Linked DNA regions of Homo sapiens. The protein of the gene in region 4 interacts with the protein of the main gene of each other region in a pairwise test. Each region holds a gene or a part of one and is shown on either strand. Other genes may lie near its edges. The genes, in order: TPX2, DNASE1L1, NEK6, CDH1, MAVS, CRELD2 and EPCAM.

What was found.
Region 1: the proteins of CDH1 (region 4) and TPX2 interact in binary tests that used the Homo sapiens proteins (3 or more experiments, as listed by UniProt).
Region 2: the proteins of CDH1 (region 4) and DNASE1L1 interact in binary tests that used the Homo sapiens proteins (3 or more experiments, as listed by UniProt).
Region 3: the proteins of CDH1 (region 4) and NEK6 interact in binary tests that used the Homo sapiens proteins (3 or more experiments, as listed by UniProt).
Region 5: the proteins of CDH1 (region 4) and MAVS interact in binary tests that used the Homo sapiens proteins (3 or more experiments, as listed by UniProt).
Region 6: the proteins of CDH1 (region 4) and CRELD2 interact in binary tests that used the Homo sapiens proteins (3 or more experiments, as listed by UniProt).
Region 7: the proteins of CDH1 (region 4) and EPCAM interact in binary tests that used the Homo sapiens proteins (3 or more experiments, as listed by UniProt).

The regions. Positions count from the first base shown.
Region 1 is NC_000020.11:31,777,086-31,781,474, forward strand, and holds part of TPX2 (targeting protein for Xklp2), read left to right. Parts: intron 1-401; coding exon 402-553; intron 554-1,727; coding exon 1,728-1,899; intron 1,900-4,389. UniProt on the Homo sapiens protein: Spindle assembly factor required for normal assembly of mitotic spindles. Required for normal assembly of microtubules during apoptosis. Required for chromatin and/or kinetochore dependent microtubule nucleation.
Region 2 is NC_000023.11:154,403,496-154,407,143, reverse strand, and holds part of DNASE1L1 (deoxyribonuclease-1-like 1 precursor), read left to right. Parts: intron 1-1,488; 5' UTR 1,489-1,575; coding exon 1,576-1,710; intron 1,711-2,060; coding exon 2,061-2,149; intron 2,150-2,229; coding exon 2,230-2,316; intron 2,317-3,521; coding exon 3,522-3,622; intron 3,623-3,648.
Region 3 is NC_000009.12:124,344,372-124,348,760, reverse strand, and holds part of NEK6 (serine/threonine-protein kinase Nek6), read right to left. Parts: exon of another isoform or gene 1,059-4,389; intron 1,053-1,058; coding exon 939-1,052; intron 1-938. UniProt on the Homo sapiens protein: Protein kinase which plays an important role in mitotic cell cycle progression. Required for chromosome segregation at metaphase-anaphase transition, robust mitotic spindle formation and cytokinesis.
Region 4 is NC_000016.10:68,743,210-68,747,598, forward strand, and holds part of CDH1 (cadherin-1 isoform 1 preproprotein), read left to right. Parts: intron 1-4,389.
Region 5 is NC_000020.11:3,856,385-3,860,773, forward strand, and holds part of MAVS (mitochondrial antiviral-signaling protein), read left to right. Parts: intron 1-1,250; coding exon 1,251-1,425; intron 1,426-2,434; exon of another isoform or gene 2,435-2,558; intron 2,559-4,389.
Region 6 is NC_000022.11:49,921,634-49,925,724, forward strand, and holds part of CRELD2 (protein disulfide isomerase CRELD2 isoform b precursor), read left to right. Parts: coding exon 1-128; intron 129-237; coding exon of another isoform or gene 238-272; exon of another isoform or gene 273-361; intron 362-660; coding exon of another isoform or gene 661-810; intron 811-978; coding exon 979-1,074; intron 1,075-1,600; coding exon 1,601-1,684; exon of another isoform or gene 1,685-1,827; intron 1,828-2,726; coding exon 2,727-2,822; intron 2,823-3,783; coding exon 3,784-3,924; coding exon of another isoform or gene 3,925-4,037; exon of another isoform or gene 4,038-4,091. UniProt on the Homo sapiens protein: Protein disulfide isomerase. Might play a role in the unfolded protein response. May regulate transport of alpha4-beta2 neuronal acetylcholine receptor.
Region 7 is NC_000002.12:47,379,240-47,383,628, forward strand, and holds part of EPCAM (epithelial cell adhesion molecule precursor), read left to right. Parts: intron 1-529; coding exon 530-730; intron 731-4,389.

The DNA.
Region 1 (4,389 bases), on a different chromosome or scaffold from region 4:
GATTGAAAAAGCACCCCTGGAGTTTATAGGATTTTCCTCTTAGAGATGCTGAGTTAACTGTGCTTTCAAAGTCAATCCATAGCTTTTCTTATCAAAAGTATTCCAGTTATTCTTTTTCTCCATAGCTATGACCACACCTAGGAGATGGGATTCTTCTACCCTGTGCTACTACTTTTTTTTAGTTTGCATCTGACTGAAAGGCCTCAAACCTAATAGTACTCAGTGAATATGACACATATATTAGTGTCCCTGAGGACTACTTCAAGTTTTGGGTTACAGGTAGATAGTAAGCAAAGTTAGATCCATGGTGACAGAAATAGCAAAAGGACTGGAGTAAAGGGGATTTACTGGTGTTCCCTATCTTAATGTTGTCTGTATGTTTTACTGTGTTCATCTCTCAGGGCAACCTGTGAAGAAATCAGTGAGCCAGGTCACCAAATCAGTTGACTTCCACTTCCGCACAGATGAGCGAATCAAACAACATCCTAAGAACCAGGAGGAATATAAGGAAGTGAACTTTACATCTGAACTACGAAAGCATCCTTCATCTCCTGTAAGTTGATGGACTAAATGAACATTTCTGTTACTAATATTCATTTAGGATTTTACGTGTAGCATTTGTGGTCACTGTTTATAATAGTATAATTGAGAAAAAAAACCTTGTGTCTATAAAGTTGTGTAAAATATAACAGATCTTTTTTTTTTTTTGAGATGGAGTTTCACTTTTGTCGCCCAGGCTGGAGTGCAATGGCACGATTTCGGCTCACTGTAACCTCCGCCTCCCGGGTTCAAGTAATTCTCCTGCCTCAGCCTCCCAAGTAGCTGAGATTACAGGCGCCTGCCACCACTCCCAGCTAATTTTTGTATTTTGTAGAGACAGGGTATCCCCATGTTAGCCAGGCTGGTCTCAAACTCCTGACCTCAGGCGATCCACCTGCCTCAGCCTCCCAAAGTGCTGGGATTACAAGTGTGAGCCATCATGCCTGGCCAATATAACAGATCTTATAGGAAAAATAGGGTTGGGGCAGACCAGTCAAATCTCATGCAGTTTTGTTACCAGAGCACCAACAAAATCAGTAATAATCGTTAAGTAAAAATGCTAGTACTAATAATCTCCACTTGCATTTGTAGTCAGTATCATCATTTTTTGAAATTAGTTATTTGCATTCTTAAACCCTGAGGTTATGCTTCTTTCTTTGAGATACAGGTCCTTGAAGGGTTTTGCTTCCAATTAGAGACCAGTTTTATCAAAATTACTGGTCCAAGGAATAGGAATAGGCTTCTTCATCAGTCTCTTTAGGGGATGTATGGAGAGATTCCACTGATTCAGGAAGCTGCCTGACCTGATGCATACCCAGAGGCCCAATCAATTTTTTTTTTTAAAGTGGAGTTGAGGGTGAGATTTCTTTGCAGTGCTTTTTGTCTTCAATTCTAAGATAGCTTACTCTGGATTCCTTCAAAACATTGACATGGTTGGGGGGAAATTACCTATGTACTATTCCAGAACATAAGATTTGTTAAGTGCTAGATCCTTTCTTCCATTTTTAATTTTTTTTAATGAGAACAGATTAGTTATAACCCTTGCTCAAGGACTGACAAACTTCAGAATAATAATCTTGGTTTTACACAGGCCTTTTTTATTGATCCTCTGTGCCGAATATGTGGCTTATGGTAGATGTGAGCTCTTCCGTGACATTTCATTTGGGGAACAACTTTTCTCTTTACAGGCCCGAGTGACTAAGGGATGTACCATTGTTAAGCCTTTCAACCTGTCCCAAGGAAAGAAAAGAACATTTGATGAAACAGTTTCTACATATGTGCCCCTTGCACAGCAAGTTGAAGACTTCCATAAACGAACCCCTAACAGATATCATTTGAGGAGCAAGAAGGATGATATTAGTAAGTTTCCTACCAGTATCACAGTTGGATGGAACCTCTCCTACATTCCCTCTGCTTACATCTTAGGCACAGATTTGTCTTTAGCTGAAATCCTAGTTTTTCAATTAAAGTATGGCGTGTGACTATGCAGACAACAAATGTATCCTTCAGAATTTTTCAAACCACCCAGCTGTCTGTCTTATACCCATCAACCGTCTTGATCCTCCTCATCAATAATTGGCCAAGGGGAATGAGTTAAGGTAACCTGAGATGTCATTACACATCCTTAACGGACATTTTTTTGCCATGTGTCAAAGTGTCACATTGCATTTAGTTACCTATAGAAAATGAAGGCATTTCATTCATTCAAGGCTATGTGCTTTTTATTCAGTGGTCCACCAAAATTTTTACTACTACTAACCAGGCACACTGTGTTAGGTATATAGAGGTAAATAAAATAGACTTGGTGCTACTCAACATCAGGTTTCTAATTCAAGTTTCAAAACTCGACATCAAGTTTCAAAAGCCTTTACCATAATTTGTAGTGACCTATTTATCTCTGTCATTAGAGATACACTAATTAGTTCTTTGCATTCTTAAACTGTCATTAGATAAACAGGTCACTACAAATTATGGCAGGGGATTTTGAGGAGGAGGGAGGTGCAAGAGTCAAAGGAGGTGGGAGATAGGGAGAGCATGTCTGAATGTTGAGAAGTCTCGTCAGAGATAAAGAAGCTGAAGGTACGAGAGAGAGGAGATAACTAATGGATTAAGTCCCTGAGCAGGCAGGTATTGGAGGGATACTTAGCACAGGTGGAGTGAGTGTTCTTTAAAAGGAGGATGGAAGAGTGGGAGGAATGGGTGCAAATACTGGGGGAGTTTGTAGATTTGGTGGTGAGCAGATGAGCGGATTCTAATGTAATAGTTTCTATCTTTATGGAAATAATTTCTGCAAGAAGGAAGATGAAATCTGAAGGGTGGAGGTGGTATTAAATAGTTGTTGGGAGTATAGGGATAGTATTCTGGATAAAGCAGAATGTGGTTGTTTTACCTTTGAGGATCTCTAAATTTTTTATATCCTTGCATAGGCATTTTTTTTGAGACAGAGTCTCGTTCTGGGTGTCATCACCCAGGCTGGAGTGCAGTGGCGCGATCTCGACTCACTGCAACGTCCACCTCTTGGGTGCAAGAGATTCTCGTGCCTCAGCTTCCCGAGTAGCTGGGATTACAGGTGTGTGCCACCATGCCCAGCTACTTTTTGGATTTTAAGTAGAGACCAAGTTTTGCTCTGTTGGCCAGGCTGGTCTTGAACTCCTGGCCTCAAGTGATCCGCCCGCCTCAACCTCCCAAAGTGCTGTGATTACAGGTGTGAGCCACTGCGCCTGGCCAAGTACAGCATTTTTTAATATTATTATTATGTTCTAGTGGCCAAAATGATTTTGTTAGATTTTATAGTATGAAAATAATGAAATATTCTTCTTTATTCTAATGGAAATTTAAATATTAAGCATAACTTTTCAAATAATATATGACTCAGAGTCTGATATGTCCTGCTTTCAGAATACTAGTCCTGGCAAAAGGAAAGAGAAATTATATTATGCAATTTTTATTTAAAACTTTGTACAGTTACAGCTAAATAATGGTTACATGTATCTTTGAAACATGGCTTATTTCTAAAATAGATTTGGTTTTGATCTACCACTGTTATGTGACAAGACCTAAATTGAAAGATTCATTCTATATTAGTTATGAAAATTGACAAGGTTTCACTGGCCAGGTAAATTAATATTTTCAATGAGTGGTGGTGATGTCTTAATATTGATGCTTTAACATAGTTTTTAACTTTCTCCATTTGATTTTCTGTAAGATGTGGTCTTGATGCTTTTATATTGATTTCATAAAATTGGGAGTTTTCACTTGGTCTTCTTTTGTTATTTATTTATTTATTTATTTTCCTTCTTGTTTTGCTTTTTAGAGACAGGGTCTTGCTCCGTCACCCAGGCTGGAGTGCAGTGGCGTGATCATGGCTCACTTCAGTGTCCAACTCCTGGGCTCAAGCAATCCTCCTGCCTTAGCCTTCCAAGTAATTGGGACTATATATAGGTGCATGCCACCATGCTTACCTAATTTTTATATTTTCTTAGGAGACAGGGTCTCATTATGTTGCCCAGGCTGGTCTTGAGCTCCTGGCCTCAAGCAGTTCTCCTGCTTTGGCCTTCTAAATTGCTAGAATTACAGGTTTGAGCCATTCTGTTCAGGCTTTACTTGGTCTTTAGGAAGGCCTTATATCTTTTTTTTTTTTTTTTTTTTTGAGACAGAGTCTCGCTCTGTCGCCTAGGCCAGAGTGCAGTGGCGCTCATTTGGCTCACTTGGCTCACTGCATGCTCCGCCTTCCAGGTTCATGCCATTCTCCTGCCTCAGCCTCCCGAGTAGCTGAGACTACAGGCGCCTGCCACCACGCCCGGTTAATTTTTTGTATTTTTAATAGAGACGGGATTTCACCGTGTTAGC
Region 2 (3,648 bases), on a different chromosome or scaffold from region 4:
ATTCAGGAGGCTGCAGTGAGCTGTGATGGCACCATTGCACTCCAGTCTGGGCGACAGAGCAAGACTTTGTCCCAAATAAATAAACAATAAAAGAATAAGCTTGACCGCTTGTGCACTGTTGGCGAGAACGTAAAATGGTGCAGTCACCATGGAGACCAATATGACACTTCCTCAGAAAATTAAAACTAGAACTACCATATGATCCAGCAATTCCACTTCTGGGTATATACCCAAAAGAACTGAAAGCAGGGGCTGGGCGCTCTGGCTCACGCCTGTAATCCCAGCACTTTGAGAGGCCGAGGCGGGCAGATCACGAGGTCAAGAGATGCATGAGGCTGGGGCACCAGGGCTCATTCCTGCAATCCCAGCACTTTAGCAGGCTGAGGCAGGAGAATTGCTTGAGCCCAGGAGTTCAAGACCAGCCTGGGCAACATAGTGAGACCTTGTCTCTATTTAAAAAAAAAAAAAAAAAAAAAAAAGGACACGGTGGCTCACACCTGTAATCCCAGCACTTTGGGAGGCCAAGGTGGGCAGTTCACCTGAGGTCAGGAGTTCGAGACCAGCCTGACCAACATGAAGAAACCCCATCTCTACTAAAAATACAAAATTAGCTGGGCGTGGTGGAGCGTGCCTGTAGTCCCAGCTATTTGGGAGGCTGAGGCAGGAGAATCGCTTGAACCTGGGAGGCAGAGGTTGCAGTAAGCCGAGATCGCACCATTGCACTCCAGCCCGGGCAGCAAGAGCGAAACTCCGTCTCAAAAAAAAAAAAAAAAAACCAGATGGATGGATGAATGAATGAATGAACAAAATGTGGTCTACCCAGATGCCCAGACAATGGAATATGATTCAGCCATGAAAAGGAAAGAAATTCTACAGCCGGGTGCGGTGGCTCACGCCTGTAATCCCAGCATTTTGGGAGGCCGAGGCGGGCAGATCACGAGGTCAGGAGATCAAGACCATTCTGGCTAACATGGTGAAACCCCATCTCTACTAAAAATACAAAAAATTAGCCGGGCGTGTGGCAGGCACCTGTAGTCCCAGCTACTCGGGAGGCTGAGGCAGGAGAATGGCGTGAACCCAGGAGGCGGAGCTTGCAGTGAGCCGCGTTTGCGCCACTGCACTCCAGCCTGGGCGACAGAGTGAGACTCCGTCTCAAAAAAAAAAAAAAAATTCTGACATATGCTCCAACATGAATGACCCTTGAGGACATTTTGCTCAGTGAAATGAGCCAGTCACAAAAAGACAAATACTGTAGGATTTCACTTTTTTTTGAGACGGAGTCTTATTGTCGCCCAGGCTGGAGTGCAGTGGTGCGATCTTGGCTTGATCTTCACAGAGCAAGACTCTGTCTCAAAAACAATTTTTTTTTTTGGAGACAGAGTCTCACTCTGTCACCCAGGCTGGAGTGCAGTGGTATGATCTCGGGAGGTCACTGGGAGGCTGGTGCTGGGCAGCAGCTAGTGCCACTTTCTCTGTTCCATATTTCAGCGCTTCCAGAGCCAGAACTGAGCCCAGTGAGAGCGCACCCTGGGGCAGCCTGGATTCCTGGGGTGTCCCCGGCAGCCACACACAGCCATGCACTACCCAACTGCACTCCTCTTCCTCATCCTGGCCAATGGGGCCCAGGCCTTTCGCATCTGCGCCTTCAATGCCCAGCGGCTGACACTGGCCAAGGTGGCCAGGGAGCAGGTGATGGACACCTTAGTTCGGGTAAGTTCATCACTTCAGGGAAGCCGTGCCCCTAACCACCATGAGCCAAAGCCCCCATCCCTGCCTGACCAGGGGTATGTTCTAGAGAAGAGGGGAGAAGAAGAGGTGTGGCACGGAGATGCAGCGCAGGCGCTTGCCTGCTGCTGGCCTCAGTCTCCTCCTCTGTGAAACAGGTGACATGTGGGTGGGATGAGTCTTTTCCTGGGGCATTTCCAGTCCCACTGCTTTCTGTGGGCTGCAGTCAGTGAGCCTTAACACTCTGGGCCACAACAGTGCCAGTCCCCTGGGCCCACTGCCTCCTCTCAGGGCAGTTGGCACTGAGTCAGGCTGGCCTTCCTGATGTCCCACAGATACTGGCTCGCTGTGACATCATGGTGCTGCAGGAGGTGGTGGACTCTTCCGGCAGCGCCATCCCGCTCCTGCTTCGAGAACTCAATCGGTGAGGAAGATTCTGTGGGTCTAATCAGGGGCACACCCAGAGGCTTGAGGCCCTGACCCCGCCTCCCCTTTTCTTGGCAGATTTGATGGCTCTGGGCCCTACAGCACCCTGAGCAGCCCCCAGCTGGGGCGCAGCACCTACATGGAGACGTATGTGTACTTCTATCGGTGAGCACGGAGCTGGCAGCGCAGCAGGGTGGGGGGCGGTCCTTGGCCCTAATGTGAGGTAGGCTCATTAGTCCCCGGGGCCACAGGCCCCCCATCCTGGGACAGCCTCACCTGCTTTGCATGCTTTCTCTTCTCAACACCTTTTATTCTGGGCTCTTCCCATCCTCGACCCCCGCCAGAGTGTCCATAGAGCAGGAGGCCTTCCTTCTATAAGCACAAATGTGGGGTCCCTCCTCCTCTCTCCTGTGGGAGCTGCTGGGGCTCAGGGTGTGGCTGGCCCCCTCTATGAAAGTGGCCAGCAAGGGCTGCAGCTCCTGGGAAGAGGCTCCGTGGGGACCACTTATGGGCCTTGGGTAGACCCGATCTTCTAAGTCCCTGGGAGGACAGGCTGGCAGGGAGCCCTTTGGAGTCAGGATCCAGAGGGCAAGGGAGGCTGCAGGGAAGGAGAACTGATTCTCTATATAAATAAAATGATATGACATCTGGTATGCGCTCCAAAATTACTGGGTAGGCAGGGTACAGTGGCTCATGCCTGTAATCCCAACGCTTTGGGAGGCTGAAGCAGCAGGATCACTTGAACCCAAGAGTTCAAGGCTGCAGTGAGCTATGATTGTGCCAGTGCACTGCAGCCTGAGCAACAGAGTGAGACCATGTCTCAAAAAAAAAAAAAAAAAAAAAAAGAATGACATCAAAGTGTCCAAATGTCAAAATGTACTATACCCAGTCCGTGGAATATTATTCAGCCAGAAAGAGGAATGAAGCACAGACGTGCCACAGCATATGGACGAACGCAGAAAACATTGATGAGCTGATTTCATTCATATGAAATATCCAGAATAGGCAAATGTACAAGATAGAGAACAGATTAATGGTTGCAGGGGCTGGGGGGAGGGGAGAATGGAGAGTAACTGGTAATGGATGTTATGTTTTTATTAGGAGTAATGGATACCAATGTTTTAAAATTGATTGTAGAAATAGTTGCACAGCCTTATGAATGTACAAAAGAACCGTGTTGTATACTTGAAGCAGGTGAATTTTATGGCATATGAATTATGCCTGATTTTTGAAAGTTCTAGAGACAGGTTGGGAGGGCTGTGCCCACATTGCCGCTGTTAGTGGAGGGCCCCTCCCTGAGCGCCGTTTGGCACTTGCAAGCCAAAATCAAAGACGTGGGGCCACTGCTGCCCATCCCTTTGTCCTCCCAGGTCACACAAAACACAGGTCCTGAGTTCCTACGTGTACAACGATGAGGATGACGTCTTTGCCCGGGAGCCATTTGTGGCCCAGTTCTCTTTGCCCAGCAATGGTAGGAAGGGAAGGGTGGGCTTGGTA
Region 3 (4,389 bases), on a different chromosome or scaffold from region 4:
CAGACTCACCCACTAGCGTTGACCTTGAACAGAAATAAGGGTCACATGATATTTAGTGAACACTGACTGAGCCAGGCCCCATCCATTGGCCACTTTGGATGGTGGTGGCAGTGTTAGCCTGGTGCCTTACCTTAATCCTTATGCTGATCCTGTGTGGAAGATTTAATATTATCCCCATTGTATAGGTGAGGAAACTGAGACTCAGGGAGGTTAGGTGACTCACCTAGGAACAGTGCAGAGAGTGTGTGAACATGTATCTACACTTTTGACCCTGCTGTGCCAGGAAACCTGTCCTTTCTTCCTCACCATTATCCACCAAGGAGATTATTAGTCCCATCTTCAAGGTGACGGAGCCGAGGAATAAGATATTCACACATTCCTAGTAACTGGTACAGCCCCATGCCAGACCCATGGGAGCTGTGTCCACGGCTCCCGCAGCCAGTGTAAAATGTTGACAGTAGAAGCCCAGGGTGTTAAGTCTGTTATATAAGGAGGAAACTGACCGGTCCTCCTGCCGTAGTTTCCTGTCATGGGAGCAGAGTGGCCACCACTGGTGGTATGGGGACGCCAGGCCTGCCACATCCTGCCCCTGTATCAGTTCCCATGTCTGGCACGGCACAGACCCTGTCCTGGGGACCTGCAGCAGAGGGCCTCCCACTGGAGCACCAAGTTGGGAGCTGAACAGGTGGAGATGTGCCAAGGGCCACGTGCCACTGGTTCCTACCTGGGGGTCCCACACTGGAGCTGCGTGGTGAAACCCCTTCTTCAGTGCAATCACCTACTTTCCCCTCTCCAAGTCACTTTTCCAGAAAGCTCCCTTTCTGCACCGTGTAAAGTGAGCCTAACCTCAGCCCCACAGCTGTGGTGTTTTGGAGCGGCCCTCATAAGCCTCGGTGGCCTCCTGGGGCTGGCGAGGCCTCCGGCTCCTGCAAACTCACCTTCTCGGAGTAGTGCTCCCCGGGGAGTGGGGGGTAGTCACACTGCTCGATCTTCTGGCACAGGGAGAAGAGATTCATCTTATCTCCATAGAAGGGGCTCTGGAGGGCTGCCATCTGCAAGGGACGGGAACAACGAAGATAAGCTTTCGGCCTCAAGGCTCAGAAGGACTAGAGAGGAGGAGGCTGCTCCAGATTGTTGGGGCATGGGTTCTCTCTGGTCCCGACCGCGGCGAGTCCAGCAGGACTTCTCCCCCGAATCACCGAGCATGCTGGGGTTCAACAGAGGAGCAGGCGCAACACTACCCTGATTCTGTCACTGGATTAAGTGGGCACGAGGGTTTCGGTGACAAAACTTTCAAGGCAATAAAGAAGGGCAGCTGGACGCTGCAAGCTAATTCCCACCTTGCTCCCACCTCAGCCCGGGGGACCCAGGCTCCATGTGGCAGGTTGCCGAGTGCATGGTCTTATTTCCATAAAACGCGATTTTTCCAAGATGCCTGCAGGGGCAGGTCTCTGTGCCCCACATGTTCAGAGAGCTTTCCTTACCTATGGACTGACATTTTGGGGTGGGGTGGGCCGGAGAAGGGTGAGGCATTTCACTGTGGCTGTTCTTGCCAGCCCCTCGCAGAGCTGCTGCCTGTGGAAGCCAGCTGCCGGTATCAGGGCAGGGGGAGCAGGGGGTTCAGGAGGGAGGGAGGCAGCCTCCTGCCCCTGGATAGAGGTGCGCAGCAGCATGTTGGAGGGAACCTTCAGGGTGGGAGGGAAGCGCCTGGCTCCACAGCCAGCCCTAGCTCTGTCCCGACCCCAGCTCTGCACTCGCTGTGTCTCTGGACTTCAGTTTCCTCATTTGTAAAATGTCCCCACCCACAGGCCTGTGGCGAGGCTTGGGCTGGCACACGGAGGAGGCACCACCAGCAGGGCCAAGACCGCCTTTGATGAGGTGAGGCCTGCGGCACCGGTTCTGCCCTGAAGGCCGGCCACAGCCACGGGGGAGCGAAAGGCCTGTGGGGCGGTGGCCTCCTGTGAGTTCTCAGCTGTCAGGGTGCTGCCAGGCTGCCCCACCACTCAGGGCACTCACAGGGGACTCCTCAAGGGGGTGTGCAGGGGCCACAGTGGCCCTGAGGCGGTGGCGCAGCAGCCCAGCGTGGCACCTGCTGGCCCCATTATGAACCCATAATGGGAAAGAGCTTCTCGTCACTCCAGCTCACTGTGGCTGCCTGCCTCCCGGACCGCCCCCCGAGGCCCAATGCCTCCGGCTAGTGAAGTGCCGTCGGGCGAGTGCCCTCCTGCTGTCTGGCCCCGGTTCCCCCCCGGAGGGGCCACCCTGCTCTGGCTTCTTGGCCAAGGGCTCCTGGGCGCCTACCGAGGGGCCCTGGGATACCTGGGGAACCGTCGCTTGTCCTCGCGCCCCAGAGGCTGAGCGGGGAGGAGTCCTTGGTAGCAGGGTTTGAGGGTGCCCGTCAGCTTGGGTTTCCTGGTCTTGCCCCATTCTGTGTTCGTCCATGAACAGGTCTGGTGACCCCAAGGGCCTGCCTCCTTCAGGAGGGCGTGGAGGAGCTTCAGAGCCTGGCACCATCCTTGGGTTTGCAGATGGCCTTTGGGGAAGCTGCTGAGTGCAGCCTGGAGACTGTGGGCTTTCCTCAGCCCCAGGTTCAGCACCCTCGGGACCAGGAGCCCAGGCCAGGCCAAGTGCCTTCAGGTGGGTGTTTAGGGACAGCATCACCTCTGTCTTCCGGCTGGCTGGGAGCTTGGGCCCCTCAGAGAAGGGCTGGGAACCCATGTGGAGCCTGAAACCCACCCTTGGAGGAGGGCTGCAGGGAGGGTCTGGCCAGGCAGGGGAAGTGTGAGGATGCAGAGGCCCTGCCCATTTTGGGGTCTGCTGACCTGACCAGGAGCGGGCTGGGAGCCTGCCAAATGCACCACCCAGGTGACGCATGTCCAGGAATTAAAATGAGACTCTCGGGTGCAAAGGGTTAATCGGGCATTTTCAAAGGACATCTGTTGCCATAACAGAGAGCAGCTGAGACTCCAGGACGGTCACCTGGGGTGATCTGGGTGCCCCCGAGTTGCAGCTGGAGGATTAAGGTGGATTTTCCTGGACTGTTACTGTGCAGCGTAGAAGGGACATTTTGAGTGTTGGTCCTGTGAACGCAGGCCCTGGTTTTTCATGTGGCTGACCCCGGAGAGGAATCAGCCGATCTTCAACTTCAGATCATGCCCATTTGATCTCAATTTTATAAACCTCGCTGCTGGGAACTCCAAAGGCCCCAGAACGCTGAGGGGAGCATTGAGCCCCCAAGCTGGCATCCACTTCCCATCATGTCTCTGCTCTTTCCAGCACTTTCTCCACATCGTTTCAGAAAAGCCTTTTGAATGGGGTCAGCAGTGAGCTATGCCAGAGGACCCCTCTCGGCCTTCCCCAGGAACAGGCCTCCTCCATCCGCCCCAGCCTGCCCCCACTCTGCTGCCGGCCATGGGCCTTCCACCCTCATCAGGGCAATGGGCTGTGAAGAAAGCTCTGGGCTGCGCGGATTACAACGATTACCCTGGACGGCGAGATCTCCTTCTACCAGTGACCACCCAGACTCTGACTGGTCGAAATAGAGAGGACTCACTGTCTGGGGCCTCGTTAGAACTGCCGAGGCCACGGCTCTCAGCGCTGCTCCTCAAATGCCAAGCCCTTCTCTCTGGTGTCATCAGGGTGACATATAGCCGAGGAAAAGGGGGTGGGTGGGCCCTGGCCCCCACCAGGAGGGCTCAGAGAAGCTGGTGTGTGATCTGAGATGTCAGAGGGACAAGGGGAATCTGACTCCTGCCTGTCAGGGCCTCAGACACCCATCTTGTCACCCAGTGTCTCTCGAGCACATCCCAGACAGAAGGGTGACTGGAGGCCAGGAGGTCTGCAGCCCTGCTCCTCCACCACGGAGGGGCGTCCAGGCCTCTCTGCCGTCCAAGCAGCATTCCAAAGCGGCGTCCCGGCCAAGGCTCCGCAGATCTTCCCCTTGAGTCCGCTGTCTCGCTGGGTCTCAGTCCCAGCTGGGCACCTCAAGGCTGCTGCGAGGAGGCCCCCTATGAGGATCCTGGGACTGGCACTGAATGAGCCAATTCCTCTAGCTCCGTAATTGCAGCTGAGCTCCCACATAGATAAAAATCAGTCCTGCAGAGCGGGCAGCCCGCTGGGCACCTCCATGGGCATCTAGGTAACGAGAACAGAGCCCGGCCTTCCGATATCCCAAGCTCGGGCATTGTTGCTCCCAGCTCCCACCGGGGGCTCCCCACCGCCTGGCCTGCGAGTCATGATTCACTCCATGTTCGGGCCAGCACTCCTGATTCCAGCCTCTTCAAGACACTCCGCTGGGGCCCCACCCGAGGGCCAGGTGCGGGGCTTTGTGGTGGCTCCCACTAGCTGGGGTCAGCGCCAGCAACTCCGGTGGCCACAGGAGGTCCTCGG
Region 4 (4,389 bases):
GTATCTCCCAGAAGCTGCCCAAACCCTAAAATCCCCGAGAGGCACCTGTCCCAATCCAATCCTTGCTGGGTCTCTTTCTTTCTTTCTTTCTTTCTTTCTTTCTTTCTTTCTTTCTTTCTTTCTTTCTTTCTTTCTTTCTTTCTTTCTTTCTTTCTTTTCTTTTCTTTCTTTTGAGACGGAGTGTCACTCTGTCGCTCAGGCTGGAGTGTAGAGAGGTAGGATCTCAGCTCACTGCAACCCCCGCCTGCCATGTTCAAGTGATTCTCCAGCCTCAGCCTCCTGAGTAGCTGGGATTATAGGCACGCAGAAGCATGCCCAGCTAATTTTTGTATTTTTAGTAGATTCGGGGTTTCACCATGATGTCAGGCTGGTCTTGAACTCCTGAGCTCAAAGTGGTCTACCTGCCTCAGCCTCCCTAAGTGCTGGGATTACAGGCGTGAGCCACCGAGCCGGGCCCCTTCCTGGGTTTCTATCCTGCCTCAGCTCTATCTCCTTTGAGGGCACAAGGCTTTCAAAAAGGAGAATGAAATCATTCAGCAGTGGCTGTTTAGGATCCTTCAGCGAGGAAGTACAGGAAACTAGGTTTGAATTTTAGCCACTAGCTATTTGACTTTGAATAAGTCACTTTACTTCTATGAGTCTCAGTTTCCCCACCTGTAAAATGGGGCGGTAATACTTATTGATCTATTATGAGAATTAAGTATGTACATTCATTTAGTTCACAAAAGTGAGTGCCTGTTGTGTGTTAGCACCAGGCTAGACCCTGAGGTTACGGCAGATTGGACGGAACATACATGCCAATGGGCAGGAATGTAAAGAGAGAAAGTAGAGAGAATATTTTCAACAGTAGTTGATATTTCTTAGGGACACAGTAAACTCTCAATGTTATTTTGAGCAAATGAATGAACACATGAATAAATCGCTATCTTGGCCAATATTTTTCCCTCTCAAACTCTATGGACTTGGTCCAGCCCTTAAGGTTGATTGTAAATGGGCGGGGAAGAATTTGGTGGGTTAGAACCTTCCATTATGCTCTGTGTGTGCTGGGGATACTGTGTTCATAGCTTCCCTCTGAACAGCTGTGCAGGGCAGGCAGGGAGATCTCAAACCTGAGTCTGGAAATGGGAGGGCATATAGCCATTTTTAAGTGTTTTCCACCTTTGGTCAAATAAAAAGAAATCTGTGGTGCATGCTCACTCTTTCTCTCTCTATCCCCATCTCTAGCCATCTCCCTTTCTTTCTCTCTTCCTCTTTGTTAATGTAAGTTTCCCTAGGCCAGGGATCTCAGTGTCCCAGCTTGTTCTTGTTACTCTTGGGGGACTGGGGTTTAGGCCTCCTCCCTTTCTGCACTTTTCATCTTCCTCCTTCCTTCCTCTTACCTGCCTCCAATCCTCCACTTCTGCCCAAGATTTGGGTGGCATCTTCCCCAAATTCAGAAGGTTCTTGAATCAGACTGCCTAGATTTCAATCCAGACAATGTCACTTCCCAGCCTAGGGATGTCAGCCAAGGACTTAGTTTCCCTCTCTGTAAAATGAGCATAATAGCATGGAGACATCATAGGATGGTATGTCAAGCGTTCAGTGAATATGAAATATTAGAGCCCCAGGAGGACTTGGTGCTGTCTGTTTGAAAGTCTCCCATGTTTTACGTTTGGTTCAAAAGATCCCCTGCGCTCCCTCTCACCCAGCAAACCAGCCAAACCAGTTTCTTCACCCTGCCTGCTTCTGTGTTAAGCAAACAGTGCACTGCAAACAGTGACTAAGCCTAGTGCCTTGTTAGGAAGAAACTGGCGTTTTTTTGCTTGCCACTGTGCAGGGTGCTCAGGGTGGACCGGAACGGGTTTGTTGTGGCTTAGGAAAGGGGACCTGCTCGTGGAGGTTGTGTAGAACTGGAGTGGGAGGAGTGGGGCAAGGCGCAGCTAGGGCCGGGGGAGTCGGGATGATCTTGAACTTGTCAGCTTCTGCTTGGCTTTTAAAAGTTATCCAGGCCAGATAGATGCTGTGGCTCACACCTGTAATCCCAGTGCTTTGGGAGGCCAAGGCCGCAGGATTACTTGAGCCCAGGAGTTTGAGACCAGCCTGGGCAACGTGGCGAGACCCCCATCTCTACAAAGATTAAAAAAAAAATTTAGCCAGGTATGGTGGCGTGCACCTGTGGTACTAGCATCAAAAAAATGCAAAAATTTGCTGGGCGTGGTGGCATGTGCATGTAGTCCCAACTACTCAGGAGGCTGAGGTGGGGGGATTGCGTGAAGCCCGGGAGGTCGAGGCTGCAGTAAGCCATGATTGCACCACGGCACTCCAGCTGATAGAGATCCTGTCTCAAAAAAAAAAAAAAAAATATATATATATATGTATATATATATGTATGTGTAATATATGTGTATATATATGTATGTGTATATATATATATATATGTATATATATTTCATGATGCACATGCCTAAGAATACCTGTCTGTTCTCCTGCTGCCAAAAACGCTCTGTCCCAGCCCCTGAGATCCTTGTGGCTAAAAATCAAATCACCTAGGGCACTTCATGCAGACTTGCCCTCTTGCAGATTCACTGAGAGCCAATCTCCAAGGGTGGAGATCTGAACTTGACATTTACTTACTTATTTATTTTTTGGGATGAAGTCTTGCTCTGTCACCCAGGCTGGAGTGCAATGACACGATCTCAGTTCACTGCAACCTCCGCCTCCTGGCTTCAAGCAATTCTCATGCCTCAGCCTCCCAAGTAGCTGGGATTACAGGCATGCACCACTACGCCTGGCAATTTTTTTTGTATTTTTGTAGAGACGGTTTCACCATGTTGGCCAGTCTGGTCTCAAGCTCCTGACCTCAGGTGATCTGCCTGCCTCAACCTCCCAAAGTGCTGGGATCGCACGCGTGAGCCACCACACCCAGCCTTGAATTTGATGTTTTTAAAAGCTCCTCAGGCCAGGTGCGGTGGCTTACGCCTGTAATCTGCACTTTGGGAGGCCAAGGCGGGCAGATCATGAGGTCAGGAGTTTGAGACTAGCTTGACCAACGTGGTGAAACCCCATCTCTACTAAAAATTCAAAAATTCAGCTGGGCGTGGTGGCATGCTCCTGTAATCCCTGCTACTTGGGAGGCTGAGGCAGAAGAACTGCTTGAACACGGGAGGTGGAGGATGCAGTGAGCCGAGATTGTGCCACTGCACCCTAGCCTGGGCAACAGAGCGAGACTCCATCTCTAAATAAATAAAATAAATAAGCAAGCTCCTCAGATATCTGCTGCCACTCAATGCATTTCCCTGGACAATCCCAGGGGCTAGATGTTTGATGAGTAAATACCCCAGCCAGGATGTGGGCACCTGGTTGTCCAGCCCAAGGCCAGGGATCCCAGGTCACACCCTTGATCAGGGAGGGATAGGCTGGTGCTTCTGCCATGCCCAGGATTGAGAACTCTATGGATGCAAGGAGGGGTGGATGGGAGGCTGGGTGCAGTGGCTCATGCCTGTAATCCCAGCACTTTGGGAGGCCAAGGTGGGAGGATCACTTGAGGTCAGGAGTTTAAAACCATCCTGGCCAATATGGTGAAACCCCGTTTCTGCTAAATATAAAAAAAGCTAGCCGGGCGTGGTGGTGCATGCCTGTAATCCCAGCTACTTGGGAGGCCGAGGCAGGAGAATCACTTGAATCTGGGTGGCGGAGGTTGCAATGAGCGGAGATTGTGCCATTGCACTCTAGCCTGGGCAACAGAGCGATACTCCATCTCAACAAACAAACAAACAAACACACCAAAGTGGGGTGGATGGGTGTGGGAGTGGGGGACCCAGAGAAGTATCCAGTGCACCCAGGCCTAAGACTCACCCCCTACACTCAGGGAGATTCCAGAAAATCTCCAAGAGAGACCTCTCAGCAGGTAATTCCAGTAGGCTCCAAGAATGCCACTGGAATGAGAATGTGTTCAGGGGATGCCAGGAGTGGTCAGCTTCACCTGCTGGGCCTTGATGAGTAAGAGGGTGTCTTCCATGCAAGGAAAGGGAAAGGGCACTCCAGGAGGAGGAAGTGGGGTACCCAAAGGTGTGGCAGGGTCATGGAGGCAGAAGGCTGGAGCTGTGCCTTCCTGGGCACAGAAAGAGGAGGGAGGAGAGGGTCCCAGGATGAGGCTGCAGAGGCAGCTGGGCCAGGGTACCTCTGGGCCTTGGGCCGTGGGTCATGGAGGGTTTTCTCTTTCTGGGCTTTTCATAGGCAAATTATTCACCCGGTTAAAAAATAAGTTTAAATATACATCTTCATATATATATGAAAAAGCTTGTATATATGTCTGTATGGCAGACAGTGAAGTCTCCTTCCCACCCCAAACCACGCTTCACCCAGTTCTTCCCTGGGGCACAGGGAACAGATTTCATTAGTCTCTTGTGT
Region 5 (4,389 bases), on a different chromosome or scaffold from region 4:
TCGCTGTGTCTTCCAGGCTGGAGTTGCAGTGGTGCCATCTTGGGTCAACCTCTGCCTCCTGGGTTCAAGCAATTCTCCTGCTTCAGCCTCCTGAGTAGCTGGGATTACAGGTATATGCTACCACACCCGGCTAATTTTTGTGTTTTTAGTAGAGACGGACTTTCACCATGTTGGTCAGGCTGGTCTTGAACTCCTGACCTTGTGATCCTCGGCCTTCCAAAGTGCTGGGATTACGGGTGTGAGCTACCGCACCTGGCTATTTTCCTTTTTCTAAAAATCTAGCTCCTGCAGGATTCTGTGGGTTTTTGTTTCTGCTGTCTGGTTGCTTGTTTTTATGTGAGAATTCAGGTAGACATAAAAACTCTAGGGCTGGGCACGGTGGCTCACGCCTGTAATCCCAGCGCTTTGGGAGGCCAAGGCGGGTGGATCACCTGAGGTCAGGAGTTCGAGACCAGCCTGGCCAACATGGCGAAACCATGTCTCTACTAAAAATACAAAAAAATTAGCCGGGTGTGGTGGTGGGCTCCTGTAATCCCAGCTACTCGGGAGGCTGAGGCAGGAGAATCGCTTGAACTCAGGAGGCAGAGGTTGCAGTAAGCTGATATCACGGCACTGCACTCCAGCCTGGGCGACGGAGTGGGACTCCGTCTGAAAAAAAAAAAAAAAAAAGAAACAAAAAAACTCTGCAGCCACTGTCATCTGCCCACAATCTCCCCAGCATTCTCAGCTTCCTTGTTTGTTATTGTCGGCCCCCTCTCTTTCCGTCTTTTGCCCCTTTCATCATACTTTTGCTATCTACCTTTTCCTTCTCTCCTAATCCAAACCTTTCTTTTTGCCCTGGGGGCCATATTAATCCAAGGCTTTTGTATCAGATTAACTGGGTTTGGATTCCTGCCCCACTGTTTTAGGATCTTTGCTACAGTACTTTGCTTCTGCTAAGCCTCAGTTTCCTCATTAGTAAAGTGGAGATAATAATGGCATTAAATAAAGATGATACATGCAAAGCCCTTAATGGAGAGCCCAGGACATAGTTAATTGCCAGTTTCCGGCAGCTGCCTTTATTGATGTGGCTGCTAATTGCTCTTCCTCACTCCATACCTGGCCCTGTCCTGGGCTCCGATCCAGTTTCACGTGGCTGCCTTGCCCTTGTGGCTTTCTTGGCACCCCTCCCCCCGCTGTGGCTTCATTCTGGGTGGGGAAGTGGCAGGGGCCACCTGGCTTGAGCAGGACAGTGGCATTGTGTCTTCCAGGATCGACTGCGGGCCACCTGCACACTCTCAGGGAACCGGGACACCCTCTGGCATCTCTTCAATACCCTTCAGCGGCGGCCCGGCTGGGTGGAGTACTTCATTGCGGCACTGAGGGGCTGTGAGCTAGTTGATCTCGCGGACGAAGTGGCCTCTGTCTACCAGAGCTACCAGCCTCGTGAGCGTCCTGCCCTTGCCCTCCTGGACCCCCAGCCTGCTCCCTGGCCTCCGCTCTCCTTTTCTCTCTCCCTGTACTTCCTGCCTTTCTCTGTCATCCTCTTTCTTGTCACTGTGAAGCGATGAATAAACCTGGGTGTAGATCCAGGCTGAGCCACTTACCAGCTGTGTCCCTTTGGCCAAGTCCCTTAATTTCCCTGAGCCTCAGGCCTCTCTTCTGTAAAATGAAGCTCATGGCAGCATCTGCCGCGGGGAGCTGCAGTGGGTGATACTGCGGGACGATGCGTGTTGAGTATTGAGCTGGGCTGGGCACTTCCTGTATGCCCAGCACATGGAGTCTCCCCTAACTTTCACGGCTGTAGCATTCGCCTCCCACCCTTCCTCATTTCTTCTCCCCCACCTACTCATTCACCCTCCCTCTCTCCTCCTTCTCTTCCCCTCCCCTGGTTTACCCTGAGAGCCTTCGACGCCCTCTATCAGCTGCCCAGTTATTCTTTAAGTCCCTCTCAGTGTCCCTGCCACTCTGAGTGCTCGGAGGCGATTTGATGAGATTGAGTTTGATCCTGAGTGAGATCAAGACATGGGAGGAGGCTGGGCGCGGTGTTTCACACCTGTAATCCCAGCACTTTGGGAGGCCGAGGCAGGCGGATCATGAGGTCAGGAGATGGAGACCACCCTGGCTAAAACAGTGAAACCCCGTCTCTACTAAAAATACAGAAAATTAGCCGGGCATGTTGTCCCAGCTACTCAGGAGGCCGAGGCAGGAGAATCACTTGAACCAGGGAGGCAGAGGTTGCAGTGAGCTGAGATCGCGCCACTGCACTCCAGCCTGGGCGACAGAGTGGGATTCCATCTCAAAAAAAAAAAAAAAAAGACATGGGAAAAAAAATCAAGCCAGCCCTATTTATATTTCAAACTAGAGGTAACCCCCGAGACCCTGGTCACATTTATAGCTGTGGGACATCCATGTTTTTCTTTTCTTTCTCTCTCTTTTTTTTTTTTCCTTTTAGAGACAGAGTCTTGCTGCGCCACCCAGGCTGCAGTGCAGTGGTGCAATCATAGCTCACTGCAGCCTTGACCTCCTGGACTCAAGTGATCCTTCTACCTCAGCCTCCAGAGTAGCTGGGACTACAGGCATGGACAACTACACCTGGCTAATTTTTAAATTTTTTGTAGAGATGACATCTCACTATGTTGCCCAGGCTGGTCTCAAACTCCTGGGCTGAAGCGATCGGCCTCCCAGAGTGCTGGGATCATAGGTGTGAGCCACCGCGTCTGGCTCTCATGCTTGCTTTTCTCTCCTTTTTCCCTTCCTTGCTTTTCCTCCCTCCCTCCCTCCCTTCCTCTCTTCCTTCCTTTTTTTCCTTCCTTCTTTTTAAATATGTCTCTTCATGTGTGGAGATTAATAGTGATCCCTGGCTGGGCACGGTGGCTCACGCCTGTAATCCCAGCACTTTGGGAGGCCGAGGCGGGCGGATCACAAGGTCAGGAGTTCGAGACCAGCCTGGCCAATATGGTGAAACCCTGTCTGTACCAAAAATACAAAAAAATTAGCTGCGCATGGTGGTGCAAGCCTGTAATCCCAGCTACTTGGGAGGCTGAGGCAGGAGAATTGCTTGAACCGGGGAGGTGGAGGTTGCAGTGAGCCGAGATTGCGCCACTGCACTCCAGCCTGGATGACAGAGTGAGACTCCGTCTCCAAAAAAAAAAAACCCAAAAATAGTGATCCCCTGAATACAATGGCTGTGGTAGGGCCTGATGAGGGGTGGGGGCAAAGGGGAGGGGCTCAGGTGGCAGCATCAGGGCAGGGGTCAGTGAGCAATGATAGTCATGTGGAGGAGAAAGCCACTGGGTCCTAGGATGCCTGGGGACAGAGAAGAGTGACTGCTGACACGGCGTGGGTGACTAGAGACCCACGAGGCCCCCCCATACTCCCCTTCCTCCCTTGCTACCTTGTCCTCCATCTGCTCTCACCCTCCCACTCCTGCCCCCTTGCCAAGTGATGCTTGTCACTCCTTTTTTTTTTGAAATGGAGTTTCGCTCTGTCGCCCAGGCTGGAGTGCAGTGGTGCCATCTCAGCTCACTGCAAGCTCCGCCTCCCGGGTTCACGCCATTCTCCTGCCTCAGCCTCCCGAGTAGCTGGGACTACAGGCGCCTGCAACCATGCCCGGCTAACTTTTTGTATTTTTTAGTAGAGATGGGGTTTCACCGTGTTAGCCAGGATGGTCTCGATCTCCTGACCTCGTGATCCACCCGCCTCGGCCTCCCAAAGTGCTGGGATTACAGGCGTGAGCCACCAAGCCCAGCCCTGCTTGTCACTCTTGAGGAGTGGGCCCACATCAGAACAGCTTTTGGACCTATGGGTGGGGCGGGGGGTGTACCCAAGAGCACCCAAGCCTCTTTAATCATGAGGAGAACCCCCAATTCCTTTTTTTTTGAGACAGAGTCTTGCTCAGTCGCCCAGGCTGGAGTGCAGTGGCATGACTTCGGCTCACCACAACCTCTGCCTCCCGGGTTCAAGTGGTTCTCCTTCCTCAGCCTCCCTATAGTCCCTGATTCCTTCTATTTTTTTTTTTTTTTTTTGAGACGGAGTCTCGCTCTTGTTGCCCAGGCTGGAGTGCAATGGTGCAATCTCAGGTCATGGCAACCTTCACTTCCCAGGTTCAAGCAATTCTCCTGCCTCAGCCTCTCGAGTAGCTGGGATTACAGGCATGCGCCTCCACGCCTGGCTAATTTTGTTATTTTTAGTAGAGACAGGGTTTCTCCATGTTGGTCAGGCTGGTCTCGAACTCACGACCTCAGGTGATCCACCCACTTCGGCCTCCCAAAGTGCTGGGATTACAGGCGTGAGCCACCACGTCTGGCTTCTTTTTCTTTTTTTCCCCCGAGACGGAGTCTTGCTCTGTTGCCCAGGCTGGAGTGCAGTGGCGCGATCTCAGCTCACTGCAACCTCCGTCTCCCAGGT
Region 6 (4,091 bases), on a different chromosome or scaffold from region 4:
CGGAGATGGGAGCAGACAGGGCGACGGGTCCTGCCGGTGCCACATGGGGTACCAGGGCCCGCTGTGCACTGACTGCATGGACGGCTACTTCAGCTCGCTCCGGAACGAGACCCACAGCATCTGCACAGGTACGGGCTACGCCTGGGCTGGCCCCGGGGTTGAGGCGGGATGACAAGAGCCCCTTGCTGGAGCTGCCTGCCTAGATGGGAACAGGGGCCTGTTGATCTTTAACCCCAGATGTCCAAGGAAGCTTCGAGGGCCCAGAAGGATGAATGAAAACATCAGAGGATAGAGGCAGAGGTTGTCGGGCACTTCCTGTCCCGTAACAGCCCTCAGAAGGGAGAAGCTACTCACCTTTCTCTCTAGTTCAAGGTCCACCCCGACCTTGAGTTGTGATGGGCCATGCAGTGCACAGGTCCTGGAGGTGCCGTGTGGGCCCCGCACCGGCCCAGAGAGCAGCATCTGTCAAATCCCTGCAGGCCGTTATGAGTGGCATCTTTCCAAAGGACGTTTTCTCCCTGGTTGTCACTGATATGTAGGAAAACTCTGAGTGTCTCGGACGTGAGTGTGTGGTTGGCCGGCAGCCCCTAGGCTATTCTGGGCAGACAGACCCGTGGATCGATAGTCAGGACCGGCCTCTCCGATTCTTACGCCCCTCAGCAGTCAGGACCGGCCTCTCCGATTCTTACCCGCCTTGCTGTCTGTCTCTTGGATGTTGGCGTGGCGTGGGCCACGCATGGATCCGTGGCCGGAACACGCACACCCAGCCAGGCTACAGCTCCAGAGTATGGATAGCTGCCTTCTCTCCAGGTTATTAAAAATTCCTTGGAGTCCTGGTTTGCTGAGAATTTTAAATTCATGGGCACTGAAAATCCCGTGTTGCTTTTCCCTCTTAAATTCCTCACTTTTAAACGAGCCTTGTCCCCAAGCTGGTACCTGAGAGTGGGGTTTGTACCCAGGCCCGCCTTTGCCTTCCAGCCTGTGACGAGTCCTGCAAGACGTGCTCGGGCCTGACCAACAGAGACTGCGGCGAGTGTGAAGTGGGCTGGGTGCTGGACGAGGGCGCCTGTGTGGGTGAGGAGCGGCCCGGGGGTGGAGGAGGGCGCCTGCGTGAGGCGTGGGGGGTGTGAGATGGGGGCGTAAGGCGTGGGGGGTGTGAGGCATGGGGGCGGGAGGCAGGGGGGCGTGAAGTGTGGGGGCGTGAGGTGGGGGCGTGAGGTGTGGGGCTTGGGGTGTGGGGGGCGTGAGGTGTGGGGGAGCATGAGGTGGGGCGTGAGGTGTGGGGGCGTGAGGTGGGGGCGTGAGGTGTGGGGGCACTCACTGTCTCACTCTCACACAATGTGTCGCCATCCTCATGGGGCGCCTGCCCCGGTTGGCACTGAGTGTCTAAGGACAGGGCCTGGCCATCGCCTCATCCCCTCCCCTGCCGCGTGGGGCCTCCGAGGATGGCATTTGAGATGATTCCTCCTCAGGGGCTGCCCTCCTCCCTGCCCTTCCCCAGCCGGCCCTGGCCACGGGCTGTGTCAGGCCATGATCGGTCCTTCCCCGCTCCCTGGCCGGGCTGTCCTGGGCCGCTCACAGCTGTGCCGCTCTGTTCCAGATGTGGACGAGTGTGCGGCCGAGCCGCCTCCCTGCAGCGCTGCGCAGTTCTGTAAGAACGCCAACGGCTCCTACACGTGCGAAGGTGGGCCAGGCGGGCGGGTCTGCACTCCGGGGCCTGCCGGGTTTCGTTGCTGCCTTTGTCAACATTCATTTATGGCTTCTTAGTGTCACTTCCATACATCCTGCCTGCCCTGAGAACACTTAGTGTGGCAAAGTAAGTCATAGGTATTTGCTGCAGGAAAATCAGAAAATTCAAGTCAGATGAAAAGAAAACAGTTAAAAACCCAGGAACTCCCTGGAGAGCGCACCCTGCTGGTGCCTCCACTGCTCGTGCCCCCCCAGCGCCCCCGCAACGTGCCCTGCGTGACTTTCCGCAGCGCCTGTCGGGTGTTTTCCACTCAGCAGCTTGTTGCGAACGTCTCTGCGTCCTGTGGTTTCTCTGTCACGCTAATGATTTTGGAGCCATTATTTCATACTTTTACAACAATGTCTGTTGCTGGACGTTTACGTCATAACAGTTTTTCAACTTATAAACTGTGAACACTTGAAGGTAAACTTTTCACATTCCTTATGATTTTCTGTGGATTAATTTCCAAATCGCTCAGTCAAGGGAATGTGTCTTTTAGAGCCATAGTGCCCCAGAAAAGTTGTGCTGATCCCCAGTCCCAGCAGCAGGGAGGAGGCCGCCTCTGCCCCGTGTGTGTGACAGCCCCAGGCAGTTTTCACTGTTGGGAGTGCAGACAGTGGGTCCCTCAGTGAGCCACTAATACTGGAAGCCATGCGAGAGGCTCTGGTTATTCTTAGGAAGCTCCTGGCAGGCTGGCAAACCAATGGTCACCGAGCTGGAGGTGGGTTTGTTTCTAGAATCTCTGTAGCACCCAGTTTCTCCCAAAGAGTTCCAAGCCAGGTGGTCTGCACCATGGCTCTCCGGGAGCACCTGCTGCACAGCAGGACGCGAGTCTGTGCTTTTGCCGGGAGACAGAGACAGATCGTTATAAAGTCACTTGGTGATGAATGAGGAGAAAACCCAAATCCTGGCGGCACCGGTGCCTTGTGCATGTCGGGGTCTGACGGGCACTGGTGCCTTGTGCATGTCGGGGTCTGACGCTGGCTCCCTGTTGCAGAGTGTGACTCCAGCTGTGTGGGCTGCACAGGGGAAGGCCCAGGAAACTGTAAAGAGTGTATCTCTGGCTACGCGAGGGAGCACGGACAGTGTGCAGGTCAGTGACGGGGTCTGTGCTGGACGCTGGTGGACCCTTCCCAAGTGACCATGATGTGAATGGCCCCAGCAGGTACTGCCAGGGATGGGAAGCAGTTGAGACCCGTCCTGCAGACGTGGCTCCCCCAGGGTCACTGTGCACTCGCCCTGAGGTCCACGTGAGACACAGAAGCAGTGGGGGTGGGGGACGGGCTCTGCATGGCCGACCCTGGTGTGGATGGCGCTGCTGCACCAGCCTCTCGCCGGTGGCCTCGTTCCCCAGGTCCACCGCCTCTGCTCTCCCTCCAGCTCCTGGGTGGCGATTGCCCCGAGGCTTAAGTCCAGGCCTGCCATGGTTGTGGGCTGCCTGGGTGAGCCTGGGCGTGGATGGAACCCGGTGGAGAAAGTGGGTTTCCTGGGCAGGCGCCATGGTTCATGCCTGTAATCCAGCACTTTGGGAGGCTGAGGCGGGGGGATCACGAGGTCAGGAGATCGAGACCATCCTGGCTAACACGGTGAAACCCCATCTCTACTAAAAATACAAAAAATTAGTCGGGCGTGGTGGCGGGCGCCTGTAGTCCCAGCTACTCGGGGGGCTGAGGCAGCAGAATGGCGTGAACCCGGGAGGCGGAGCTTGCAGTGAGAGGAGATCGCGCCACCGCACTCCAGCCTGGGCGACAGAGCGAGACTCCGCCTCAAAAAAAAAAAAAAAAGGAAAAGAAAGTGGGCTTCCTGGGCGCATGCTGGCCTTCCGGCCCCACCTGGAGGTCTCTTCTCTGCATTTTCTACCAGTTGAGGGCCCAACTTGGAGACGTGAAATTCTTCCCTCTCGAAGCCTTTCCTGATCTTTGCTCCTTTCTGTAACGTGACGTTTGTCATCGTTGTGCTTTCTTTATGTGAATGAATCTGAATGAATGAATTTCATAATCCGCTGCGCGTCTGCTGAGCAAAGTAATTATTAAAACGGAGTCTTTTCATTTTAGATGTGGACGAGTGCTCACTAGCAGAAAAAACCTGTGTGAGGAAAAACGAAAACTGCTACAATACTCCAGGGAGCTACGTCTGTGTGTGTCCTGACGGCTTCGAAGAAACGGAAGATGCCTGTGTGCCGCCGGCAGAGGCTGGTGAGTGGCACGGCTGCCCTCCACACAGGCTGCCCTCCCCTGGGCCGCAGGGCTTGCACGTAGACTGGCTGCTTGGTCTGAAATCCACACAGATGGTGGCCTTGAGATGGTGAGAGGGGGATTCCCGGAAGACAGGTGCATGACATCTCTGTGTGGGCACGCTTGCG
Region 7 (4,389 bases), on a different chromosome or scaffold from region 4:
AATTGTTCTGCCTAAAATATCTCCCCTCTTTCTTATAATTCTTATTTATTATCTACTTGGTGGTTACTTAGTTTGTGCATATATGCTCCCCTATGATATTTATAATTTACACAAATAAAAGTCTGTTAAAAAAGACTGTAACTGATATGATTAAAATATTTTGTTGAAACTTTAATATATTATAGTGAGGTATTTTCTGCTGAAATATGAGGTTTGCTTCAAAATAATCTGGGCGGGGGTGAAAGGATGAAAGGAAGAAAAGATGAAGTAAGAGAGGCTATGTGTTGTTGGCCTTGCATCTGGGTGATAGGTACATGGGCATCATTGCACTACTCTTTCTACTTTCGTGTATGTTGAAAGGTTCCTGTAATAAACAGTTTTTTAAAGTTCCAATAAATTAGATTGTTATCACTAAAACCATAAAGATTCTTGGCAGCGGTTCTTTTGGCATACAATTTGTATGTAATTATATGTGGCCATGGTTGGTTTCCTTAAATATTTTTAATTCCTTTTCTCCTTTTCAATACAGGTTAAAGGTGAATCCTTGTTTCATTCTAAGAAAATGGACCTGACAGTAAATGGGGAACAACTGGATCTGGATCCTGGTCAAACTTTAATTTATTATGTTGATGAAAAAGCACCTGAATTCTCAATGCAGGGTCTAAAAGCTGGTGTTATTGCTGTTATTGTGGTTGTGGTGATAGCAGTTGTTGCTGGAATTGTTGTGCTGGTGAGTACAGAACAAGTAAAATTTCATTTAAGGGTATATTTTTTCAAGAAAAAGTAATAGTGGCTGGGCGCGGTGGCTCACCACACCTGTTATCCCTACACTTTGGGAGGCTGAGACAGGTGGATCACTTGAGCCCAGGAGTTTGAGACCACACTGGGCAACATGGTGAAACCTTATCTGTAGTAAAAATACAAAAATTAGTCAGATGTGATGGCTTGCACCTGTGGTCCCATCTACTTAGGAGGCTGATGTGGGAGTGGTCAGTTGAGTCCAGGAGGTCAAAGCTGCAGTGAGCCATGATCACACCACTGCACTCCAGCCTGGGCAACACAGCAGGACCCTGTCTCAAAAAGAAGAAAAAAGGAAATATGAAAAAGTAACATCCATATTCCAAAACATTCAGGGAAAAAAATCTTCATTTTTAAATAATTTTTTTATGGTGAATGAATCTATTGTATCTCTGGTCTCTTTTTACAAAAGTCATTTTATGAAGCAAGAAAGGATGCTAATATTAAAAAGCTTGTGGCTGTGCACCTCACAGGCCAGTTAAATTGCCATCTAGCAGCAAGCGTCTTTCAGTTGTCACTGCAAACAATTCAACACCTAGTGCAAAATACCTGAACCCCCAAACCACTCAATAAGATGGAACAACAGAACACAAAGTTAACGTTAGCCATACAAAAGAGTTAAAAGTGATATGTGAATCAATACTTCCAAGTAAAGATGAGCAAATTGAATTTAACAGTGCTTCAGCAAAAGAATGTATTGCTTGAAGAAGTGAAAGGTTTATTTTAGGAATGTAAGGATGCTTCGGTATCAAGAAATCTTACTAACACTGGCCAGGTGTGATGGCTCAGGCCTGTAATCGCAGCACTTTGGAAGGCTGAGGCGGGTAGATCACTTGAGATCAGAAGTTCGAGACCAGCCTGGCCAACATGGTGAAACCCTGTCTCTACTGAACATACAAAAAAATTAGCTGGGCGTGGTGGCACATGCCTGTAATCTATTCGGGAGGCTGAGGCAGGAGAATAGCTTGAACCTGGGAAGCAGAGGTTGTAGTGCGCCAAGATCATGCCACTGCACTCTAATCTGGGTGACAGAGCAAGACTCTGTCTCAAAAAAAAAAAAAAAAAAAAAAAAAAAAAGGCCAGGCACAGTGGCTCATGCCTGTAATCCCAGCACTTTGGGAGGCTGAGGCGGGTGGATCACCCGAGGTCGGGAGTTCGAGACCAGCCTGACCAACGTGGAGAAACCCCATCTCTACTAAAAATACAAAATTATCCGGGCATGGTGTCTCATGCCTGTAATCCCAGCTACTCAGGAGGCTGAGGCAGGAGAATCACTTGAACCCAGGAGGTGGAGGTTGCAGCTGAGATCATGCCATTGCACTCCAGCCTGAGCAACAAGAGTGAAACTCCGTCTCAAAAAAAAAAAAAAAAAAAAGAAATCTTACTAACACAACAGAATTCAGAAAGAGGTTTGAGGGTATTTAGGAACTTAGATTTCCAGTTCAATCAACCATGTTTGGCTATCCATCTGGAACAAAATGAAAGTTGAATTCCTATTTCACTCCACCAGGCTGGCCATATTGCCCAGCTGTGTGAGGGTGGCATGTCCAGAGCACAGTAGTAGGAAAGGCGTTGGGCAGTGTATCCATTTTCAAAGACATTTACATATTTAAAAATACAAAAAAGTAAACTCCCAAGAAAATTAATTGAGGGAATGTTTGTACAACCTTGTGGTAGGGGAAATTATGTAAGGCAAGAAATCTGGAATCCATGAAAGAAAAGATACATATATGTGTATGTATATTTTGAGAGAGGGTCTTGCTGTGTCACCCAGGCTGGAGTGCAGTAGCATGATCATAACTCACTGCAACCTCCAATTCCTGGACTTAAGTAATCCTCCTGACCTATCCTCCCAAGTAGCAAGGACTACAGGTATGTGCCACTATACCTGGCTAATTTTTTAATTTTTAGTAGAGACGAATTCTTGCTATGGCTGCCGAGGCTGGGCTTGAACTCCTAGGCTCAAGCAGTTCTTTTGGCTTAGCCTCCCAAACTGCTGGGATTACAGGCATGAGCCATTGCACCTAGTCCTATATATATATATTTTGGCTTCATTAAAATTAAGCATTTTATATGGCAAAGAAACTGTAAAGTAAAAAATAACGATGGGCATGAAAAAAATATGGCGCATAAAGCAAAAATGGATATTATACATAATATACAAAGAGTTCTTACAAATTGATGAGGAAACCTAAAGAAAGAATGACAACAGGTAGGGATAGACAGTTAATAGAAATTTCAGATGGCAAATGAACACAAGTGGTTAATGCTGGAAGTCTAATTGTTCTGTAGAAATAAATGAAAACACAAGTGCAATAAGGAAGCACATTGTTATTGTATCATAGCATTGCTTGTAAAGGTGAATCTGGCCAGGCGTGGTGGCTTACGCCTATAATCCCAGCACTTTGGGAGGCTGAGGTGGGCAGATCACCTGAGGCTGGGAGTCCGAGACCAGCCTGACCAACACGGAGAAACCCCGTCTCTACTAAAAATACAAAATGAGCCAGGCATGGTGGTGCATGCCTGTCATTCTGGCTACTCAGGAGGCTGAGGCAGGAGAGTCACTTGAACCCAGGAGGCAGAGGTTGTAGTGAGCCGAGATCATGTCATTGCACTCCAGCCTGGGCAACGAGAGCAAAACTCTGTCTCAAAAAATGAATAAAAACAACAACAAAAGTGAATCTGGAAAATAGCCTGAGTGTGTATCAGTAAGAGAGTAAATTATGTTTATTGTATCTACGATAGGGAATAATGTGAATGGTGAATGAGTTCGATCTTTATCTTTGGATCTGGAATGGTTGCTATGATGTTGATACAAGCTGTGCACAGGTGGTGATGATACTGCATGGTCCCATTTTTAGACCCCAAAACTTAGATGCATGTGTTTATATATGATATTTGTATTAGTGTGGAAAAGGAGGATGTGGAAGAATGCACACCAAACTGTTAAATTTCTTTCTTTTTTTTTTTTGGAATGGAGTCTCGCTGGCCGGACGTGGTGGCTCACTGCTGTAATCCCAGCACTTTGGGAGGCCAAGGCAGCTGGGTCACGAGGTCAGGAGATCGAGGCCATCCTGGCTAACACGGTGAAACCCTGTCTCTACTAAAAATACAAAAAATTAGCCAGGTGTGGTGGCGGGCACCTGTAATCCCAGCTACTTGGGAGGCTGAGGCAGGAGAATGGCGTGAACCTGGGAGGCGGAGCTTGCAGTGAGCCGAGATTGCACCACTGCACTCCAGCCTGGGTGACAGAGCGAGACTCCATCTGAAAAAAAAAAAAAAAAGAAAAGGAGTCTCTCTGTGTTGCCCTGGCTGGAGTGCAGTGTCATGATCTCGGCTCACTGCAGCCTCCACCTGCCGGGTTCAATTGATTCTCCTGCCTCACCCTCCCGAGTAGCCGGGACTACATGCAGAAGCCACCATGTCCAGCTAATTTTTGTATTTTTTGGTAGAGACAGGGTTTCACCATATTGGCCAGGCTGGTCTCGAACTCATCACCTCGTGATCCGCCTGCCTCGGCCTCTCAAAGTGCTAGGATTACAGGCATGAGCCACTGTGCCCGGCTTCTTCTTTTTTTTTTTTTTTTTTTTT